Homo sapiens: one gene and its partner. The protein of the gene in region 1 interacts with the protein of each later gene in a pairwise test. Each region holds a gene or a part of one and is shown on either strand. Other genes may lie near its edges.

The links. Proteins that work in one complex are often made in the same cells at the same time.
Region 2: the proteins of ABHD5 (region 1) and PLIN2 interact in binary tests that used the Homo sapiens proteins (3 or more experiments, as listed by UniProt).

The regions. Positions count from the first base shown.
Region 1 is NC_000003.12:43,693,936-43,700,955, forward strand, and holds part of ABHD5 (1-acylglycerol-3-phosphate O-acyltransferase ABHD5), read left to right. Parts: intron 1-5,340; coding exon 5,341-5,426; intron 5,427-7,020. UniProt on the Homo sapiens protein: Coenzyme A-dependent lysophosphatidic acid acyltransferase that catalyzes the transfer of an acyl group on a lysophosphatidic acid.
Region 2 is NC_000009.12:19,124,490-19,132,170, reverse strand, and holds the start of PLIN2 (perilipin-2), read left to right. Parts: upstream 1-4,678; 5' UTR 4,679-4,752; intron 4,753-5,722; 5' UTR 5,723-5,744; coding exon 5,745-5,774; exon of another isoform or gene 5,775-5,861; coding exon 5,862-6,057; intron 6,058-7,681. UniProt on the Homo sapiens protein: Structural component of lipid droplets, which is required for the formation and maintenance of lipid storage droplets.

The DNA.
Region 1 (7,020 bases):
TGCCTGATTCCTCAAATTTAACATGTCCAGACCATGATCTTATTTTTACCTTCCTGCTCCTAAACTAAACGATATAAAAAGCTTAGTTCTGGCCGGGCGCCGTGGTTCACGCCTGTAATCCTAGCACTTTGGGGTAACACCGTGAAACCCCGTCTGTATTAAAAATACAAAAAAATTAGCCGGGCAAGGTGGCGGCGCCTGTAGTCCCAGCTACTCGGGAGGCTGAGGCAGGAGAATGGCGTGAACCCAGGAGGCGGAGCTTGCAGTGAGCCGAGATCGTGCCACTGCACTCCAGCCTGGGCGACAGAGCAAGACTCCGTCTCAAAAAAAAAAAAAAAAAAAAAGCTCAGTTCTTCCTCTTGAAACATTATATTGGCTTAATCATTGCCTTGACTAATTGTTAGATTATTAGTTTAATCTCATGGTTCTGTAATTCCCACTCCTGATTGTGAGTTACTAAAAAAAATCATATGGAGAGGTGATTTTATTAAAACTGATTATTCAGTTGAGACCTAGGATTTTTAGTTTTATTCTCTTTATTATCTAGTGAATGAACTTATTTTAGAACTGATGCAAAGAAATGTCACTGACTTGTTAAGTAGAGTACACCTGTGGCTTCTTCAAGTGTGTTTGATAATGAGGTCATATAAGTGACTCTAAAATGGTTTGTTTACTGTGTGAAGGAAGGTAGGAAACAATGGGGAGATACGTGTTACCAGCACATGGCTTGTCTAAAACACTTATACTACCAATCTGAGTCTTTAAAAGTTACAGGTTGGGGGGGGAGGGGCAGTTAAAACAGTATTAATTAATGTGTTAACATATATTAGAGGGCCTGGATTGTCATTGATCTAATAGTGATAATTTGAATCACTTAAGTATCATTTATCCAAAATAAAATGGCATGTTAGTCACTTAAATTGTAGCTGTATGAGACCATATTCTTTTTTTTTTGTTTGTTTTCCAGAGACAGGTTCTTGCTCTGTCACCCAGGCTGGAGTGCAGTGGCACAATCATGGCTCACTGCAGCCTCAACCTCCTGGGCTCAAGCAATCCTGCCACCTCAGCAACTTGCCCCCCAGCCCCTGTATTCCACCCCCCCAAGGTTGCTGGGACTATAGGCATGTGCCAGGCGGCTGGGACTACAGGCATGTGCCAGGCAGCTGGTCTTGACCTCCTGACTGAGCTCAAGCAATCCTCCCACCTCAGCCTCCCAAAGTACGCTTTTTTCTTTTCTTTTTCTCTTTCCCAAGAATAGGATTTAAAAAGTCAATTCCCAAGAAAGGTCTTTATTTACCCAAGTGTTATAATTTCCAATTTGGATGTTTTTAGTCATTGGTTGAGGAAGTATCTCAGATAAATATAAATGTAAATATAAATAAATGTATATATTCATACCTGTAATTCATTTGGATATTTATAATAAAAATCAAAGCCTCATGGTTTCTTTAAATGAGATAGAGAGCTGTGCTTAGGTTTATCAAGAGCAATAAGTTTATGTGATTTTTCTCTCTCAACTACTAGAATAGGAATGGAGGCCATTTTAAACAAAATTTTAATATAATGAAATCCTCTTTACTTATAACCTAATTAGAAATATTAAGTGGCCAAGAGTGTATGGAAACTGGCCAGATTTCTGCATATTTTCTTCAGAATACTTCGAAACCTCTTTCACTGTTTCATAATGTTTATAGATTGTGCAATTCAGGTTTAGTAATACTGTAGATAGACAGATGTGTTAAAGAACAAAACAGAGATTACCAGGAAACTTAAGTGTTGATAGTATGGAGTATAAGTATGACATAATATTTTTTTAGAAGGATTACGTAAAAAGTTAATGGAAAAAGTGGTGTCTATCTCTCACTCAGGATACTTAAAGTCAGATTCTTAGGTAAAATATACTCTATTAATATGTTAAGCACATCTTACTTGGCTTTCCTTAGAATTGTCACCTCTGATGTGATCTTTTATAACTTTTCTTACTCAAAAGTCTGCTCACTAAAAAGATTCTTAGTTTGCACTACAATGGTTGTAAAACAAGAATCCTTTCTTTTTTTGTTTTTGTTTCTGTGATTAGATGCTTTAGGGCTTATATCCTTTGCCTTGCTAATAAGGTAAGTGCCCAACTGATGGGGCTGTGTAGAAAACTTTTTGGCTTGCATTGGTAAGCTTTCCCCATGTCATAGATGCTTACTATTAGAAAGCTATAGTTCCTGTGGTGAATGACTTCTCTTTGTATTACAGTTGACACTTTGGTCACTGTTGAATTTAGGCCTCAGTGATGGATGATAGTGTTTATTGCTTGTCTCCTTAAATAAAATAGAGAAGTTAGGTTTTGCTTTTCTATTTATTTTCCAAAGCTATGAGGAAGAGGCATTGAATCTAGTTTACTGTTTTATAGGTGGGCTGTGTGAATTTAATTTTTGCCTTGAATTTTGTGACCTCAGAAGAATGGCAGAATATCTGACAAGCTTCAGTCCTGTGTCCTTAGTTCCAGTCTTCTATATACTAAACCTAGGAATGCTGAGCAACACTGAATGGCATAGGATACCACTGGGGAGGGGGCAAAGGGTCTCTTTGAAGGTGAGATTAATTTATCCCGAAGACAGGAGGTAGAGTTGGATGGGTAAGTTTTAAAGGGTTGAAGCAATAGAGGTTGCAAGGTAAGGTATGAGACCTTTGAACAAACAGGAATCAACTAAAGGGTGGAAAAGATAAGGCCCTTGCTTTTTACTCATTGGAAATGTTCCTTGAAGCCTATTATGTATATAACACTTAATCCTGTAGAGTGTCTCAAAGAAGCAGAGGATAGTTTCTGTAAAACATTTAATCATCTGGTTAAAGTGAAACTGGACAGAAGCATTATCAGGGCTTAGGGGAAGAGTGCTATCTTTACAATTCCATTAAGAGTAAAAATATCTTGCTATGTTTTGTTAAATATATATTTTTCTGTTAGAAAAAAACCCACTTTAAAAAATCACCTGTTTTGATGAAAATGCTTCTGTGAAAACCTGAAGAGAGTTGGTGCCTCTTCTTATGGTTGAAGATCCCTACTTTTTAATGTAAGCTTACAAACATGAAAACATGTTTTGCCCCTTCTCTGAGTTGAGCTGGTCACTAGAAGGCAAATCCATGGACAGACAGTCCCATTGTTTGAAAGCTGGTTTTGTGGTAAGTGGTAAGTTGGTGGAGGTAGGCATGATTCTTCCATTACAGGCTGGTATGTAACTTTTTAAACACTGGTGCTTTGTACATAGTAGGTATTCAGTGTCTGAATTATTTTTTGAGTGTCGTTTTTTAAAAAAGTATCCTTTTTTAATGCAAAGAATGCATTTGTGTTTTCTTTGCCCCAGTTTGTCTGTGATATCAACTGGAGCAATAGTAGCTTATACTTCATTTCACTGTAATTTTTTTTAATTGACCTCTGATTCTCTCTGGCAAATAATTGTGATATGGTTCGAGGGATGTTTGTTTAAGACAATGGATGAGATTGAGTTGTAAGTAATTTCTTGTTGGTACTAGTTCATATTTTTATGGTTAAATATAGACCTAATGGCTGGTCAAGGACAAAAGAGCTTCACCTTTAACCTCTAAAAATCATGAGTTCTTTTATTTTAATGGCCTGTGTATTAGTCCATTCTCATGCTGCTATAAAGAACTACCTGAGACTGGGTAATTTATAAGAGCTGTGCAAAGCCATAGAGACATGTAATCATATGAAATTTTGAGAGATATGAAGTACTGGAAAAAGTACAATATATGAAAAGAAAAGATGGGATGGAGGTAGGCTGTGGATGGATTGCAAAGTACCTTCTGTGCAGGTCCAGGAAAATATAGACTTATCCTGTAGGTAATGGGCAACCCTTCAGACATTTTAAGGAAGGTAGTCATTTGAGAAAAAAGCACTTTGGAGTGGCTCAGAATCAAACTTACTTACTTACTAGCTGTATACCCTTGGACTTGGTGCTTAACATTTCTGAACTTCAGTTTTTACATCTATGAAATGGGGATAATTTGGACTGAGAATCCCCTGGATTGTGAGTGACTTAATCACTCAGCAAACATTATTGATTGAGTACCTGTTATACGTAATATCCAGATAAATTCTACAGGGAAGGGAAATATAGTAGGATGAACCTACAAAGGTAAGAAAAGCTAGATGTTGGTACACAACCCTTCCAAAACTTAGCACATTTTCCTCTCACACCTATTCTTACTCTTGTGTTGTCTGTCATTATAGTGGTAACCTAAGAGAGACGCCTGGGAATCCTTATTATAACTTCTTTATCTCCAACCAGTTATCAAATCCAACCTGTTTTCCTTTTAAATATTCTTTGACTACATCTTCTTGTCTCTATCCCTGTTGCCAAAGCCTTGGATTGGGCCCTTACCTCTCATCTGGACTCTGCAGTAGTTCACTTTTCCTCTTCTAATTCATTTCTTTTTCATCAGAAAGTTCTCATTTTAAATAATACCAGCCATGCACCGAGCCCTTGCTAACTGTCAAATGACTACTGAAGCTCTGCATTATGTCAGGTTATTACAGTAAGCTTTTGGTTTGTGACTGCCAGGCCAGGAGTTGAGGCTTACCCTCTCTTTTGTTGGCTACAAGCAAAGTATGTCAACTGCAGCCTCCCCATGCCTTTCCTCACTAGCTGCCTCAGATCTGCTTCCTTGTTCTTTGTTGTGCTGTCTTCTGATGGATGCTTTGGTCGTTCTGTTCATCTACTGTTTGCTGAAACCCAAAGCTTTTTTGTACTTCTATTAACAGTTAACCAGTTCACCCTAAGGAGATTGTACGCAGACCAGCCTCCCACATTTGTGTTAGGGGTATGTTACTACTCATATGAGATTTGAAGCCTTCTTTTTCCCCAAAAAATGGTCGATCTCAGATTTTAATAAGGTGCCCCTTTTCTCAACCCCCATAGAGGTACCTTTTATATTCACTGTGAAACTGTCATTCAAATGAATCTACTCCTGGTCTTTAACTTTTTTTGCACTTCTACCCCAATAAGAGGCTGTCTTGCAGTGGGGAGGAATGCATTTTTTGTGTTTTCTTGTTCTTCCCATTTTATCCTCTTTTTGCTTATTTGGAATCTGACTATCCATGAATAAGATGGACTTTGAGATCTACTTGTAAGTACACAGGCTGAAGTTGAATATCTGTATCCCAGTACTTACCACCATGCTTTGTGCATGTTAGGTCACTTTTGTCACACATAGCTTTACCATCACACAGGTAGTAAATTTCCTGTGCTGCCTTTCTTCTGTGCATGTGACAATTGGTAGTTGAGAAGAGCATGAACTCACCTATTTGTTATTTTGTTTTTGGTGCTCTAGGTCAGGATGGCTAACTGGTTGGCTCCCCACATGGTGCCCTACGTCTATATCACACCTTAAAGAAGCTGAAGAGAAGATGTTAAAATGTAAGGCTTTCTTCTTGTAAGTTAAATGAGCTGTGTACTAAGATAGGTCCAATATATCTCATTGCCCTGAAACTGGAGGTAAGATTCTGTGGTGTGTTCATTGTTGGCAAAATAACTTTTTTCCTTTTCCTTGTCATTAGAAAGTACAGAAATGAATGTCGGGGGCTGGCAGGTAGGAGTTCTAAAACTTTTTGGTCTTGGGCCCCTGTTATACTCTTAAATTAGTAAGGACCCCAAGGAGATTTGTTTATGGGCTTATTATCAATATTTATCATTTCTAATACAATTAGAAATTAAAATTGAATAATCAAAAATGTTAATTTATTAATTTCTTTAAAAATAATAGTAAACCCATTACAGATTAAAATAAATAAAATTTGTACCAAAAAAAGAAAAAAAATACTTTCCAAACATTGTTTACATGTTTACAAATGTCTTTAATGTCTAGCTTGACATAAGGTTGCTGCTTCTGCTTTCAGTCTGATGGGTAATCACATATGTGACTTCTGGAAGACTACTTTATACCTATTAGAGAATGAGAGTGAAAAATAGAAAGTCTTAGTATTATGATGAAAATAGTTTTGACTTCCTGGATCTCCTCGAAGAGTCTCAGGGACACCCCCCCTGACTCTGCTTGAGACTATGCTTTGAGAACAGATTCTAGGTGTTTCAGAGCAAGCAGCCTTGTATAGTGGAAGTACTAGACTGGACCCAGGTAACTTGGTCTAGGCCCAGATCTGCCACTAGGTGGTTACAAGATCTTGGACAAGTCACTTTGCTCAGCTTCTCATTTCTTATAAAATGAAGGGGTAGGATTCTTATAAAATGAATGGGTCCATAGAATTCCTTCTAGTTCTAGCATTCTAGGATTCTATATTTATAGTGGTGTGGAAGCCCCTTTTTTTTCCTTCTTATGAGCACTAAAATTTACCCAAACTTGTACCATCAGGGCATTCCAAGGTATCTGTGGGTGTAGTTCTAAGTAGTGGTACTTATTGTGCAATTTTGTTCTGCTGATTCTACTTAAAGGAGTGGATTAGGTAGTACCATTCATATTCATGTGTTATTTTTGTATGTAGGTGCAGATGTTTGTACATGCCTGTTTTTCATTCTCTTTACCACTAATGAATTTGTTTGTGCATTTGAATGATTCAGGAGTAAGTGACCATAACTGGATATATCCTTAGGAAGGGATAATTAGCCATCTTTCATGAATTTTTTTTTTTTTTTGAGATGGAGCCTTGCTCTGTTACCCAAGCTGGAGTGCAGTGGCACAATCTCAGCTCACTGCAACCTCTGCCTCCTGGGTTCAAGCAATTCTCCTGCCTCAGCCTCCCAAGTAGCTGGGATTACAGGCACCTGCCACCATACCCAGCTAATTTTTGTATTTTTAGTAGAGATGGGGTTTCGCCATGTTGACCAGGCTAGTCTTGAACTCCTGACCTCAGGTGATCCACCTGCCTCGGCCTCCCAAAGTGCTGGGATTACAGGCATGAGCTACCACGCCCAGTTATTACATGGATTTTTAACATGATAATGAACTTCTATTCCATATACTTGGGTAAACTTGCTCTCTACAAAACTAAGAAAGATG
Region 2 (7,681 bases), on another chromosome or scaffold:
ATCAATTTAGAAGTTTATTTTGCCAAGGGTAAGGACACACACATGGGAGACAGGTCTGTGCCTTTCTCCAAAGATGATTTTGAGGGTTTCAATATCTAAAGGGGAAAGGAGTGGATACTGGGGAGAGGAGAAATTGTTAAGGGGTGTGGGCCAGTAAGAGGCAAATGGTTGCATTCCTTTGAGTCTTTGATTAGCCATTGACATGTGAGATGGGGGGGTAGAGGAATAGTCACGCATTCATCTAGCTCAGTGAATCTGCATTTTTAAATAAGATAAAATAAACATAGGCCAGAGGGAGCAATCAAATATTAATTTGTCTCAGGTGAGCAGAGGGATGCTATTGTGTTCTGTCCTATGTCCCACATCTGTGAATATAAGCTATCAATTTACATTGTGAGGATGAAATTCAACAGAACTTTTTAGGGTAAAGATCTTGGGGCCCACAAGGAATTTCCTAGTGGGCAAATTATGAGGGAGGTATGTAGCTTTTTTGTTTTGTTTTCTTTTGAGACAGAGTCTCACTCTGTTATCCAGGCTGGAGTGCAGTGTCTCCATTATAGCGGTCCCCAACTGCAGCCTTGACCACCCAGGCTCAAATGATCCTTCCACCTCAGCCCAGCAAGTAGGACTACAGGCGCATGCCACCACACCCGGCTAACTTTTGTATTTTCTGTAGAGACGGGATTTCACCATGTTGCCCAGGCTGGTCTCAAACTCCTGGGTTCAAGTGATCGCCTGCCTCAGCCTCCCAAAGGGCTGAGATTACAGGCATGAACCACTGCGCCTGGCTTATGTAGCTTATCTTTGAATAGGAGGTTTGTGTGACACAGTCCCCAGCTTGACTTTTCCCTTTGGTTCAGTGATTTTGGGGTCCCAAGATTTATTTTCCTTTCACACAGGTAAAGTCCGGAGAAGAAGCTGGTGAGAAAGAGACAGGAGCCAGATGCTGAATGACGGTAAATCGAATCCTGGAGGGAACCAAACAAAACCCTGAAAACCTCCAGGAATCTCAGGTTGGCCAAATCCTTGGTAATGTCCTGCCACTCCCCAGGACTGCCACACTGTACACACCCTATCTAATGGCAACCTACTGCAGGGGCCAAGGAAAAACGTCTCCTTTGTCCTCTGGAGGTTCACTGAAAAATCAACTGGCGGAAAGCAAATTAACAGGTCAAAAGATATACATGTATTATTATAAAAAGACGTAAATGTATTATTGGGCATGTGGGGGAACCACAGAGTAATTACTCCACCTCTCAGTGGGCTCAGAAGCTTATATACCCCTCCTGAGGTTACAGAAAGTTTGGGGGCTCAGAGAATGGTGGTAAATCAGGATTTAGTGGCAAGACAGAAATGGAAACTTGGCTAGCAAAAGTCATTTCATTATGTAGATTGGGGTCCCCAAACTTTGGGCCATTTACACTGTGGCCATTTACATTCCTGTTAGGAATAGGGCCGCACAGCAAGAGGTGAGTGGCGGGTGAGTGAGCAATACCGCCTGAGCTCTGCCTCTTGTCAGGTCAGCAGCTGGTATTAGGTTCTCTTAGGAGCAAGAACGCCGCTGTGAACTGCACATGCAAGGGATCTAGGTTGCGGCTCCTTATGAGAATCTAATGCCGATGATTTAAGGTGGAACAGTTTCATCCTGAAAACCATCCCCCTGCCCTGGTCCATGGAAAAATTGTCTTCCATGAAACCTATCCCTGGTGCCAAAAAGGTTGGGGACCGCTCATGTAGATGAAACCTCACAGGTAGTAGCCATTGGAAAGAATAGATGGTTGATGTTTCTTTCAGACCTTTAAAGGTGTCAGACTGTCCATTAACCTTTCCTATATCTGGACGAGGGAAAACCTCAGAGAGCACCTGGCTGCATCAATGCAGATTTTCTCTGTATATTGCAAGCCTCTCTCACACACACACACACACACACACACACACACACACACACACACACACACACCAAACAGCTTCGTAGGACTACTTCCGCCTGCAGGTCCTCTGAACAGCCATATCTCAAAATATGTGAAAGAAGTATATTTTGGGGTAAAATTTTTTGGTTTCCTTCACTACACATCTCACCTTGGGTGTTATTCTTGCCACTGGTTTCATGTTCTCAGACTCACGAAGCTGAAAAACAGTTGGGGATGCAGAATTTGATGTGCTTCATCCTTTGTGGGCTTGAAGAGTCTCTTGTTCCCAAAATTATTCCCTGGGGCCCTCTGCTTCACAGGCAAATAAAAGCAAAAAGAAGCTTGCTCAGCCTTAAGTGAGGAAATGACTCACAGGTTTAAAACAAAAAAGGAAAAGATGGAGGCATTTTGTAGGTGAAAGGGCGAGAGTCTTCTGATGCAAAGTAAGAGGTCATTAGAGCAGGGATGGATTATCAATAAGCAGAGCAAACATTTGCTTAGGGAACAAACAGCGCCGGAACACGAAAAAGAAAAGAAAAACATAATAATTTAATTACTTAAAACACTGAAGATGGCAACATAGGAAAAAACCCAAACCAGAACATTTTTGGACTTCATAACATTTTATGGTTCAGTATTTATGGCTTAGTATTTTATTTTGAATTACATGTGGGGAGGAGGGGTAAAAATACTTTAATTTTTCTTGCTAAGTAAGTACTATTATATATTCAGGTATAATGGGATAAGGGATACCATTTTAATGGGTCCGTTTGGAGCTTTAAATATGATCAACAGTATCTGTGTGCATGCAAGATTGGTTAAGAAACTGGGTTAGACCGAGTGCGGTGGCTCACGCCTGTAATCCCAGCACTTTGGGAGGCCAAGGCGGGCGGATCACGAGGTCAAGCGATCGAGACCATCCTGGCCAACATGGTGAAACCCCGTCTCTACTAAAAATACAAAAATTAGCTGGGCGTGGTGGCCCGCGCTTGTAGTCCCAGCTACTCGGGAGGCTGAGGCAAGAGAATCACTTGAACCCGGGAGGCTGGGGTTGCAGTGAGCCAAGATCGCGCCACTGCACTCCAGCCTGGCGACAGAGCGAGACTCCGTCTCAAAAAACAACAACAACAACAACAACAACAGAAAATGAAAACAAATTGGGGTAAAAGTCTCTGAGAGCTTCCTACAGTTACAACTCCAAAGCTTCACAAAGCCAGTCCCTCCTGGCTGGAGCCAGGGACTCCAACGCTGTGGGCCTCTCAGGGGGCGGACCCGCGGCGCCAGCGCCTGCTCCCTTCCCACCTCCCAACCCTCCTCTCTGCTGTATCCTCCCTGCGAGCTGTGTCGGGGGCCGGGGGGGGGGAGTGGGGGCCGAGGCCGGACAGCTTCATCTGGAAATCCCCCGCCACTCACGGGGGAAGAAGTCCCACGAGCCCTATCTGGCCTCGGGCGCTGGCGCAACTTGTCTGCTCAAATAATCTCGTTCCAAATCTGTGCGTTTTACACAAGAAACAAACAAACAAAACAACAACAACAAAAAAACACAACTGGGACTCAGATGACGTTTTAAGTTGTCTTTGAAAAACAATGCATAACCCTGCACGTATAAAGTTGCCTATGTCACATAACCCTAGGCAGCTGTCATTCTGGAGTGATCTGGAGTTAAGTTTTTTGTTTTCTTTTTCTTTTTTCTTTTCTTTTTTTTTTTTTAGACAGGGTCTCAGTCACTCAGGCTGGGGTGCAGTGGTACAGTGGCGCGATCTCGACTCATTGCAGCCTCGACCACCTGGGCTCAAAAGATTCTTTCACCTCAGCCACCCACCCGCCTGCCCCCAACCCCGCTAAACAGCCGGGACTAGCTGGGACTACAGGCGCGCGCCACCACGCTGGGCTGCTTTCTTTGTATTTTGAGAGAGACGGGGTTTCGCCATGTTGGCCAGGCTGGTGATTCGCTCGCCTCGGCCTCCCAAAGTGCTAGGATTACAGGCGTGAGCCACCGCGCCCAGCCGCCACAAAACTTTTAAAAGTTATTACTTCGCTAAAAATAACAGCGTAGAAGCCATTGTGCAGCGCCACGCGATCTCGGCTCACTGCAGCCTCGACCTCCCAGGCTCAAGCGATCCTCCCATCTTAGCCTCGCAGGTAGCTGGGGCCACAGGCGCACGACACCACGCTGGGCTATTTTTTAAAATAAAATAAAAATCTTCGCCAGGCTGGTCTCGAACTCCTAGGCTCGACAGATCCTCTCGCCTCAGCATCCCAAAGTGTTGTGATTACAGGCGTGAGCCACCGCTTCCATTTTTAGAGTTCTATTCTGAGGACTAACGCCGTTCAACAAGTTGGTGTGAATTTGTTTGCATTTTTCAAAACCCCAAAGCCGGCCTGGGCGCCATCCCCATTTGCCCCGGGCCTCTCAGGACCCCGACCACAGGCAGGACCCCGACCACAGGCAGCGCCCCGACTCCAGGCAGCGCCCCGACTCCAGGCAGGGCTACCTCCAACTCCCAGCCTCCCCAGGCCGGGCCCCCGCCCGGCTCCCGACAGGCTCCTCTCCCCGTGGCGGGGCCCCTCGCCCAGGCAGCACACCCTCTCAACCCGACCGGGCCCCCACCACTCTAGGAGGGCCGGCGTTGGGGGAGGGCGCCGGGACGTGCCCGAGGGTGACACTCGGGCTTGGGACAGGGCGTGCTGCCGCGGGTCACGTGCTGCGGAGGCTTGGGGAGGGGCGGCGAGGCGGGGTTTATAGCCCGGGCGCCCGCGGGCCCCACGCTTTGACCGGGTCGTGGCAGCCGGAGTCGTCTTCGGGACGCGCCTGCTCTTCGCCTTTCGCTGCAGTCCGTCGGTGAGTGCGCGCCCAGTGGGTGCCCCAGCGAACCGGTCCCGGGCCCCCAGCGGCGCCCAGTTGGGGTGGGGGGCTCCCCGGGGCCTTGGGACCGCTGCTCTGCTCCCCGCGGGGCTCAAAGGTGGACGGGACGCGGGGGTGATGGTCCGAGACCCCCCGCTCGCCTCGCGGCTTCCAGGTCCTGGCTGGGTAGGGGCGGTCTGCTGAACCCGCGCTTTCGACCCTTGCCTTTGTGCGTTGAGGCTTCTTTCCTGCCAACAGATTTAGGGCGATTGCTATCGAATGTCCCTTGGCCTGCTTGGGTGGTTGTGGGAAAACAATATTTGTCGAAGGGACATTATCGAAAGGGAAACGCGTTAGAAAACCGCATTTTTTTTTTGACGGAGTCTCGCTCTGTCGCCCAGGCTGGAGTGCAGTGACGCCATCTAGGCTCACTGCAACCTCCGCCTCCCGGGTTCAAGCGATTCTCCTGCCTCAGCCTCCAGAGCAGCTGGGATAACAGGCGCCCGCCACCACGCCCGGCTAATTTTTGTATTTTTAGAAGAGACGGGGTTTCACCACGTTGGTCAGGCTGGTCTTGAACTCCTGACATCAAGCAGTCCACCCCCCTCGGCCTCCCAAAGTGCTGGGATTACAGGCGTGAGCCACCGCGTCCGGCTTGGCTAGCATTTTTGTTAACAGATACTCGGAGAAACAAGAGAAGTATGTCAACAACTTTACTTCTCCCTCCTGAGTATTGCAAGTTTACACATAAGCTCTGAAACTTTGCCTCAAAAGAGGGAGTGGGGTTGTGTGGGTGTGGGTCTTTCAGGAGGGGGACCTGGAGAGCTGGAGAGAGGAAAGAAGTGCAGAAGACTACAGGGAGCTCACCCTGCATTTTTCTCTACTTGTAATCAGCATTTGCTTGGGTTGGGGAATGAATTTGGGAGAGTCTTATCCCGGTGTTCTGAAATAAGTCTCTTTTCTGCAGATTTCTTTCTCCAGGAAGAAAAATGGCATCCGTTGCAGTTGATCCACAACCGGTATGAATTTTGAGTAGCCTTTGTCTACTTTCTCTCCTTTTGTGTTTTGAGAGATTAATAAGCATACCCTCCCTACTTTGATTGCAGAGTGTGGTGACTCGGGTGGTCAACCTGCCCTTGGTGAGCTCCACGTATGACCTCATGTCCTCAGCCTATCTCAGTACAAAGGACCAGTATCCCTACCTGAAGTCTGTGTGTGAGATGGCAGAGAACGGTGTGAAGACCATCACCTCCGTGGCCATGACCAGTGCTCTGCCCATCATCCAGAAGCTAGAGCCGCAAAGTGAGTTCTGATTTTTCAAGATGCAAGTCAAGGGACTGGTCAGTGGCGAGCCCCTGAGCTCACAGCAGTAACATCTGGAACTCCTCAGCCCTTCCTGGGGCATACACTGCCTTTACCTAGAAACTTTCAGGTGACCCTCATTACCGTAAGAGGACTGTTTCTTTTCTTTTCTTTCCTTTTTTTTTTTTTTTGAGATGGAGTCTCACTCTATCACTCAGGCTGGAGTTCAGTGGCGCAGTCTTGGCTCACTGCAACCTCTGCCTGCTGGGTTCAAGTGATTCTCCTGCCTCAGCCTCCCGAGTAGCTGGGACTACAGGCTCCCACCACCATGCCCAGCTAATTTTTGTATTTTTAGTAGAGACGCGGTTTCACAATATTGGCCAGGCTTAACTCCTGACTTTGTGATCCACCCACCTCTGCCTCCCAAAGTGCTGGGATTACAGGCGTGAGCCACCGCGCCTGTCCACAGAAGGCCTGTTTCATAGCTTTGGCAGATGTTTATGATCCTTTAATTAAAAATCCCCCAGAGGATGGGCACGGTGGCCTGCACCTGTAATCCTAGCACTTTGGGAGGTCTAGATGGGAGGATCGCTTGAGGCCTGGAATTTGAGACTGCTCACTGCAGTCTCTGCCTCTCGGGCTCAGGTGATTGTCCTGCCTCAGCTCCCTGAGTAGTTGGGATTACAGGCATACACCACCATGCCCAGCTAATTTTGTATTTTTAGTAGAGACAGGGTTTTGCCATGTTGGCCAGGCTGGTCAGGAACTCCTGACCCCAGGTGATCCGCCCGCCTCGGCCTCCCAAAGTGCTAGGACTACAGGTGTGAGCCACCATGCCTGGCCATGAATGAGTTTTAGAAATGGATAGTGGTGATGGTTGTATAATGTTGTAAATGGACTTAATGCCACTGAATTGCACAGTTAAAAATGGTTGAAATGGTGAAATTTGTTATGTATATTTTACCGAAATAAAGAATAGAAATGTCATACTCCATGAGAAATCTCATACTCTCATACTTAGTAGTCACTCCCCATTTCCTAACAACCACCCTGAGGCAGCTACTCATCTACTTTGTCTTTATAGATTTGCCTATGCTGGATATTTCTTATAAATGAAATCATAAAATGTGTGGGTTTTTTTGTGATTGGCTTCTTTCGTTAAGCATAATGTTTTCAAAGTTAATCTGTCTTGTCACATCATATCAGTACTTCATCTCTTTTTATTGTTGAATAGTAATTTACTGTCTAGACAGACAATATTTATTCATTCTTCAACTGATGGATGTTTGGGTTCGTTCTACTTTTGGAGATTATGTATAATGCTTCTGTGAACATTTGTATACAAGTTTTTGTGTGGACATGTTTTCAGGTTTTTTTGGTATATACCCAGGAGTGGAATTGCTGGGTTATATAATAACTGTTTAAGCTTTTGAGGAGCTGCCAGACTGTTTTCCAAATCAGCTGTACCATTTTACATTCCCACCAACACTGTATGGAGGCTCCAATTTCTCCACAACATGAACTGCTTTTGAATAAAGATTTAAATCATTCTTTCAAATGGTTAAGCCAGGGACTTTTAGGATTATAAGGAGCCTTTAGAGACCAGCCATTCCAACTCTGCTAC